Linked DNA regions of Homo sapiens: region 1 is linked to region 2. The links come from fine-mapping of genetic effects on gene expression. A gene starts in region 2. The other region holds a variant in brackets. All regions are shown on one strand. Distances are between the middles of the regions.

What was found. PIP is the estimated chance that this variant, and not a neighbour inherited with it, causes the effect.
Region 1: its variant is the best candidate, but not a certain one, in a credible set for the expression of PRG2 in thyroid (GTEx, PIP 0.51).

The regions. Positions count from the first base shown.
Region 1 is chr11:57,437,397-57,441,783 of GRCh38, reverse strand. No RefSeq gene overlaps it. Among named protein-coding and RNA genes, the nearest start is that of SLC43A3, 12 kb to the right of the region's middle. The variant G/A (reference allele first, on the strand shown) is at 1,810.
Region 2 is chr11:57,388,852-57,393,238 of GRCh38, reverse strand. PRG2 (proteoglycan 2, pro eosinophil major basic protein) reads left to right here and starts at 2,589. Exons shown (of 6, transcript NM_002728.6): 1 at 2,589-2,643; 2 at 3,283-3,352; 3 at 3,922-4,229. The coding sequence starts at 3,295.

The DNA.
Region 1 (4,387 bases), 49 kb before region 2:
TTAAGAGATGGGGTTTTGCCATGTTGGCTAGGCTGGTCTCGAACTCCTGACCTCAGGTGATCTGCCCGCCTTGGCCTCCCAACATGCTGGGATTACAGGCATGAGCCACCATGCCCAGCCATTACGTTTTTTTGGTTGTTTAATTTTTTTTTTTTTAAGAGACAGATTCTCACTCTGTCATCAAGGCTGGAGTGCAATGGCACAACCATAGCTCACTGCAGCCTCCAACTCCTGGGCTCAAGGGACCCTCCTGCCTCAGCCTTCCCAGTAACTGAGACTACAGGTGTGAGCCACCATGCTCAGCTAATTATTTTTTATCTTTTATTTTTTGTAGAGGGGGGGTCTTTCTATGTTGCTCAGGTTTGTCTCAAACTCCTGGGCTCAATCAATTCTCCTGCTTTGGCCTCCCAAAGGGCTGGGATTACAGGTGTGAGCCTGAAAACCTTCTAGTGTGGAAGTGGAAGATAGGCCCAGGCCACTTATGTTTTCAAGTTAAGCAAGGTTTAGGTCACTTATGAAGCCTGACTAGTTTTGTTTGCTTAAGGGATCTGCAGGCCTGACCTCGGTTTTCATTTGTTTTAACAGTGTCTATGTGTATGTGTGTGTTTATGTACGTGCATGATGGGGGGAAAGCTCAGAAATCAAGTAAGCCAAACACAAACATGTAATTATAAGCAGGGATAAATTCTATGATGAAGAAGTATGGGCCACGGGAGAGTACTTGTGCCAGTCTGGTGATCAGGAACAATGTCCTTTGGGAAGTGACATTTGAGCCATGCCCTGAAGTATGGTAGGAGTTGGTTAGGGGTGAGGCAGTAAGACCCAGAGCTGGGGCTTCCTGCACAAGCTCAGCTGGGCACTGAGGACCCAGTGGACTCTGCTACAGGGCAGTGAGGAGCAGAAAGGCTGAGGAAGGCTGGGTGTGGTGGCTCACACTTGTAATCCCAGGGCTTTGAGAGGCTGATGGGGGAAAATCGGTAGAGCTCAGGAGTTTGAGACCAGCCTGAGCAACATAGCAAGACTCCATCCCTGTAAAAAGCTTTTAAAAATTAGCTGGGTGTGGTGGTATGCATCTGCAGTCTCAGCTACTCAAGAGGCTGGGGTAAGGATTGCTTGAGCCTAGGAGGTGGACGCTGCAGTGCGCCATGATTGTGCCACTGTACTCCAACCTAGGAGACAAAGCGAGATCCTGTCTCAAAACTGAATGAATAGGCTGTGTGCGGTGGCTCACTCCTGTAATCCCAGCACTTTTGGAGGCTGAGGTGGGTGGATCACCTGTGATTGGGAGTTTGAGACCAGCCTGGCCAATATGGTGAAACCCGATACAAAAATTAACTGGGCATGGTGGCTCACATCTGTAATTCCAGCTACTCGGGAGGCTGAGGCATGAGAATGTCTTGAACCCGGGGGGCAGAGGGTGCAGTGAGCTGAGATCGCACCACTGCACTCCAGCCTGGGAGACAGCGAGACTCCATCTCAAAAAAAAAATAATAATAATAACAATTAAAAAAAAATTAAAAGGCCAGGGAGCACTGGCAGCCTGTCCAAGGTTTCAGGTCACTTTAGTAAAGGGAGAACAATGGCTCCTCCCAGGACCTCTGGGATCTCAGCATTGATACGACAGTCATGGAAATGCTAGGGCCCAGGCAGACCATCTCAGGGAAAACAAGTGGCTCTGCCCTGCCTTGGCCACTTCCTGGCCCTCTGCATGCCCCAGGGTCTCAGCACCAAGCTGTTCTCAGTGAGTAGCTCTCATTTAGTGCCAGGGCTCTCGGGCTTACATCCTACGATGACGATGGAATGCATAAA[G/A]GATGGGGCTGTGATAGCCCAGAGCTAGGGGTTCGAATCTCATGAGATGTTCATGGAGCCCTGGGAGGGAGCTCAGTGCAAGTTCATTTCTCTTTTTTGGTTGAGATGGGGCTCAGAGGAGGAAGGACTTGTTCAAAGACACACAGGGAGTGTTTCAGTGTGGGACGGAGGTTTATGGAGAAAGGGTGACCATCCAAGGCTTGGACAAAGATCATGACTTCGACCAGCAAGCCTCAACTCTGTAGACTTGGTGGGGGCCAGGCCCTCCCAAACACACCTGACAGGTGTCTGTGGTCTTGGGGACATTGTCGCTCCCCTTCCTGCTGATGCTCTGCTGTCCCTCTCCCATGAAGCGTATCTCTTCGCCGTCTCCCATCCTTGCTGAGAGAGGATGGGTTCTCTTCTGACCAATACTGAAGATCTTTAGTAAAGTTCTCTTTTTTTTCATTTTCTGAAAGTCCCTCTCTTGAGAAATCAGGACAAGTGAGTCAGGGCCAGGACAAAAAACAGTGTGGGACGAGTGTGGTGGCTCACGCCTGTAATCCCAGCACTTTGGGAGGCCAAGGTGGCGGATCACTTGAGGTCATGAGTTTGAGACTAGCCTGGCCAACATGGTGAAACCTCGTCTCTACAAAATACAAAAATTAGCCAGGCGTGGTGGTGCATGCCTGTAATCCCAGCTATTCGGGAGGCTGAGGCAGGAGAATCACATGAACCCAGGAGGCGGAGGTTGCAGCGAGCTGAAATTGGGCCACTGCACTCTGGCCTCTTGGCAACAGAGCCAGACTACCTCTCAAAACAAAAACAAAAACAAACGACAAACAGTGTAGACTTTGTGTTTTTCTCAAAAGCACTGTCAAGCCAGTGCCCGCAGCAGTGGGCCTAGACACCTCCAGTCTTGCCTCAGGGTCAGTTTCCAGCCTCCCTGGACACTTCCCCCAGGTATGTGTACTTTTTGATTGTCCTAAATCCAGAGTCTGTGGCCTGACCTGGTTTGTCACAGCTCTCAGTCCCTCCCCATCCCGAATCCCAGGGAGCCGCAGGTGTGTGCAGAAGAGGCACACCACACTCAATACATCTTGCATCCTCGCTGGACCCAATCCATTGGCTTGGTGATGTACAGACTGAGCCTCATTATAGCCGTTCGTTCCTGTTGACCTTTCCAGATCAATCTGCCAGCTTGGCTTCTCCGAGTTTCGCTTGTCAGCATTTCTCCAATCCCATCATGTACTTTGGACCTCTTTGTTGGGTGGCTTGCTTTATCTGAAATTTTCAGATTTGACTTCAGGTCTCTCCTTTGTCCCTTAATATGGCTTAATGGTGGACCCTGTCAGGGGTAGAGAAAATATTGAGGAGCCCTGACTTTGAGGTGCACAAGTTAGAGGGTTAGACAAGTCCAGCCACAACCAGCCCAAGCTGCAGTGTAGGGAGGCCTGTCCAGCTGCTCCACGGTTGAGGGTGGAGCATACAGGAAGGCTTCCTTCTTGCTGCAGCCCAGGTGTTCTGGCTGCCCTAGCTGCCTGGCTTTGGTAGAAGAAAGAAAGGCTCTGTCTCTGACTTGTCAACTAATGGCACTATGAGATTGCACATAATTAACCTGGGTCTGCTCTTCCAAAAGCCTTGGGCCTCTGACTGCAACATGGAGTCTGGGTATCACTCCCCATCCCTGCGCCACTCACCTGCTCTGGCGCTAGGCGTGTGCCTAATCACTTAATTTCTCTGTGCTGCCTCTTAGGTATCACTTCCCCTGATCCCAAATACTTACCAGGTGTGGGATGATACCTGACTAGTTACTCCTTGGAGGTATCTGCTTCTCACCGGGGACTCCGAAACCAAACGAAAAGCAAGGCCAAGCCCAGCCTAAAGGACGCTTCCTACATGACTTCAGGCTTGCGGGGGCTGGAGCGTGGGGGTGGCAATGGAGTTGGGGGGGGCTCAGGGAGGGGATGTGGAAGTGCTTTGCTTTGCAAACTCTAGAGAGCCGTGTAAATAGGAGTGATTATTCTGTCCCTTCCCTTTCTTTCCAACAGGAATCAGCATCCCACAGCCCATGTTCAGCTATGAAGAATGGAAACTGAGGCTCCGGGAGGGGTATAGGGAGGAGCCAGCAGGGTCTTGAGTTCATATTAGTGCCCTTTCCTCCATAGGCACATCTGTGTTTTCTTTTATTTTATTTTGAATTTAATTTTTTTTTTTTTTGGCAGAGTCTTGCTCTGTCGCCCAGGCTGGAGTGCAGTGGCGCGGTCTCAGTTCACTGCAATCTCCGCCTCCTGGGTTCAAGTGATTCTCCTGCCTCAGCCTCCCGAGTAGCTGGGATTACAGGTGTACACCACCACACCCAGCTGATTTTTGCAATTTTAGTAGAGACAGGGTTTCACAGTGTTGGCCAGGCTTGTCTTGAAATCCTGACCTCAAGTGATCTGCTAGCCTCGGCCTCCCAAAGTGCTGGTATTATAGGTGTGAGCCACTGCGCTCGGCCACATCTGTGTTTTAAATGAGAGGAAAGGGGATAATGTGCATTTTGTGGAAGCTTGGGCCGTTTGTGTCTAGGACTCTTATGATCTTCATAAGTTTTCCC
Region 2 (4,387 bases):
CTAAAAGAGAGACTTCCCTAGGAGTGAGGGTCCCTGAACAGTCAACTGGTTTCCAAGAATGGGCTCCCTCTCATCACCTTATGACAGTAATCCTCTGTCCAACAGCCAAAGAGGTCCTGTGGGGAGGGCTTGCAGATGGGAGTGCGCAGAGCCCAGCTCAAAGCTCCTGACTAGGCTCTTGTTGAGTATTCCTTTGATTCCTGCTTCTGTCTTTTTAAATCAATGGAGACAGGGGAGGGTTATCTCCATCCTCGGCTCAAGATGAAATGCATCGTTCCTCGTTTTTCTCATTCCTTCCCAATGTGTGTACTGTTAACTTTAGTTATGAAGGAAATTACAGTGTCCTGTGCATATACCAAGGCTGTCCAACCTCCACACCTTTGCTCAAGCTGTTCCTTCTACTTGAAATGCCTGTTTCCTTCCCTTCTAATTGCATCTTTCCATCCAGGTAGGAATCAGCTCCTTGGTTCATGGAGCCTTTTCTGCTCTGTTTTACTATGCATGGACTTCCTTCTGAATTAGCAGAGGATGTTTCCTAGCTTGGTCTTAACCCTTCTCCTTTTGTTTGACCTCAATTTACTCATCTTACAAATTAGGTTGTAAGCTAATTGAATACAGGATCTATGCTTCACTCTGATTTTATCTCCACCTGGATAGCATCATTTTTGACACACAAGCAGGCATATGGGAGGGGAGAGAAGTTTGGTGCCAGAAAGAACTGGATTTGAATTCTAACCCTGTTGTTTACGTGAGTACGTTACTTAACCATTAATTACTTCAATGTATATTTATTAAGTACCTACTATGTGCCGGGCACTGTACTAAGCACCAAGGATACAATGGTGAGTAAAGAGATGCAGCCTTCACCATCACGAAGGAAGACAGATGTTAATCCATTAACCAAGTAATCTCACAAGAAAAGTAAAATGACTAACTGATAAGGACAAGCCCCTGGAGCTACAAGAGGGTGTATACAGGGCATCGATCCAATAAGGGCAGTGTTGCGGGGAGATCAGGAGCCACACAGAGCCTGGGTTGTCTCACTTGGAAAATGGGGTATCAACCACCTACCTCACTAGGTTTTTAAAATCAGGTTAAATGAGGTAATACTTGCCATGAACAGTATTTTGTTGATTGATGATTGATTGAAACGGAGTCTCACTCTCTCGCCCAAGCTGGAGTGCAGTGGTGCAATCTCAGCTCACTGCAACCTCTACTTCCTGGGTTCAAGTGATTCTCCTGCCTCAGACTCCCAAGTAGCTGGGATTACAGGCAGCCACCCCTATGCCTGACTAATTTTTGTATTTTTAGTAGAGACAAGGCTTTGCAATGTTGACCAGGCTGGTCTCAACCTCCTGACCTCAAAAGATCCACCCACCTCAGCCTCCCAAAGTGCTGGGATCACAGGCATGAGCCACTGCATCCAGCCACTTGCCATGCATGGCATTTAAAAATGTTCAGTAAATGTTACCATAATGAAGGCTGGTAGGTTGGCCAACTGAGTGGTCTGATTCAGAAGGAAAGAAGTTAGACATACGTGAACATTTCCTGTACTTGAAGATCCTCAGGACAGTGACTCCTAGACCCATCTTCCATCACAGTCAGCTGGGAAGCTTTTAAAAAAATGCAGACATCTGACCTTCACGCTAGACCTATTAGCCAAGCAGAAGTTTCTGGGCAGGGCATCTGCATATTTTTAAAAATCTTTAATAAGGCAGCCTCAAAATTACAGATTCAGCACGCATTTACCATAACCACTGAAGAAATGCAAAGTTATAAAAAGAAGATAAACAACAATCTGTCTCCTGCTTTCTTCCCTCTCCTCCCCTGCTTCTGGAGGCAACAAGGTCAACTATTTGGTGTGATTCCTTTTAGCATTCCCTCCATCAATGGTCACATAAGGATGCTCACAGATAAGCACCTATGCGGGGGTTTTTTTTTTCCTTGTAAAACTATTCACATACTAAATACTTTCCTCAGTATCTTGCCTTTTTTCACTTCATGTCACAGAAACATCTCTTCAGGTTTATAGATACAGGTCCAGCTCTTCTTTTCATAGCCATATAACATTCTGTAGAATAGAGAGGACACATTTTACTCAGTGTCCGATTGATGGATATCAATATTGTTTTCATTTCTACAAATAGTCAAGGAATAACATAACTCTGTAAAAGTTTTATTACTTATAGGCGCATTTATGCCTAAAGGATAGTCTCAAAAGAGTGAAACTGATCAAATGTGCATTTTTTTATTTTAATAGGTATGGACAGATTTGTTCTCAAAATGTTTGTGGCAGTTCAAAACACCAGTAAAACAGGGGAGATATGTATTTTGGAAAAGCACCCAAGGCGATTCTGAAGTGTAGCCCAGGATAAGAACCATTGCCCAGAGCTGTTCCAGATGGCCCCTGGGTTCCTGAAGTGGGTATCGGGAGAGAAATCTTCACTGAATGAATGAGTGGGCTCCCCAGGGAAGTGATGAAATGGTCCTTATCAGCCTTGCTATCTCCCTCTGACAGAGGCAAACTCTCTCTCCCTGGGGGAAGTTCCTCCAAGGCCTCTATATAAGAAGTCTTTGTGAGAGGAAGCAAAGAAGGACCTGGGCTTTGGGAAGATCTAAAGACCCAGGAAGGTCTCTGGGTGGGTGAGTGCTTTCTCTGCTGTGGTGGAGCTGGTGACAGTTTATTCTCCCAGGAGGTCCCTGGCTGTGGCTGACAGTTTCTGGAGGGCTGGCAGGCGTCTACCTGTGGCTTTCAGGTTATGAGGATGTCAGCAGGGGCAGCCTTCATCCTCTGCCTTGCACATTCCTTCTGCGGGATGTGAAAGTGCTCCTTGGCTGGGGAAAGGAGATGGTGGAGACATGGAGGAGGGTGTGGGTGGCTTCTTGAACTCTGAGGAGGGGACATACCTTCTAAGTCCTATGTGTTCCTAGGAAAGCCAATAATCATTGCTTCTCCCGCCTTTTTTATGTCATAGACTCTGAGGGACCCATTAAGTACAAACAAATAAGCGTAATAGTCCCTTCTTTACTTCCGGGCCTGAAGGAAAGCCAGCCTCAGCCACCCCTCAGGGTTTGCTGCGTTCTGTTTAGAAAGAGGTCCTTGCGTCCTGGATCCTGGAGCATCAGGAGCTGGGCTTGGCATGAGCTTTTCTGGCCCATCCTGATTTCTATTCAGGCCTTCTTTTTCTCCACCTCACTCCCACGGTCCCCTAATGGTGTGATTGTGATGTGTGTGCATGTGTGTCTGTGTGTGTCAATGACAAACTGTGTTCTCCGTTGCAGGATAAAGCCAAGATGAAACTCCCCTTACTTCTGGCTCTTCTATTTGGGGCAGTTTCTGCTCTTCATCTAAGTAAGTGTTTTTTGCCTTCAGTCTTTCTTTCTCTGTTTTTTCCCTTTCTATGGTAGATGGGGTCAGAGTTACACACCCACCCCCTTCTTTGATCGTCTTCTATTTCTGAATTTCTGTGTGCTTAAAGGGATGGGGACTCTATGGCCAGGAGTTGAAAGGATTTCTCAAGGCGTCTGTTATGTCTGTGGTCTTGGTTCTACTGTGACATTCCCAATTTTGTCCTTTCTCCATTATGCTTACTTTGAGCTTACTGAGTGCCTTCTCTCCTTTAACTCTCTTAGCATCGCCATGAAGTAGGTGGTATTGTATACCCATTTCACAGAAATACAGCTGGTGGATGATGGAACCAGTACCCAAGCCCATGACTGCCCGACTCTAAGTCCATGCTCTTAACCACCTTGACCTTGTCAGGCAGCTTGGGTTCCCCTCATAGAGACTGGGTTCCAGGTTCCCCTTCCCAGGCAGAGTTGAGCACTCTGATGCCCAGGGCAAGGTGTGAGCTGTCTGTGGTTCTGGGGAGGAACAAGGGGAGATGTGAAGGAAGGACACTTAGCTATCCTCCCTGCCAGGGTCTGAGACTTCCACCTTTGAGACCCCTTTGGGTGCTAAGACGCTGCCTGAGGATGAGGAGACACCAGAGCAGGAGATGGAGGAGACCCCTTGCAGGGAGCTGGAGGAAGAGGAGGAGTGGGGCTCTGGAAGTGAAGATGCCTCCAAGAAAGATGGGGCTGTTGAGTCTATCTCAGTGCCAGATATGGTGGACAAAAACCTTACGTGTCCTGAGGAAGAGGACACAGTAAAAGTGGTGGGCATCCCTGGGTGCCAGACCTGCCGCTACCTCCTGGTGAGAAGTCTTCAGACGTTTAGTCAAGCTTGGGTGAGTGGCCTATGGCTGAGGCTGAGGTGGGAGCATGGAACGGGTGTGGGATATGCCCCCAGCATTGCTATCACTGGCTCTTTTTCCCATTGAGGGCCCTGGGGGTGTCAGTAGAACCTGAGCCTCAGAGAGGTGTTGGGGTAAGAGGGGAGGGCCAC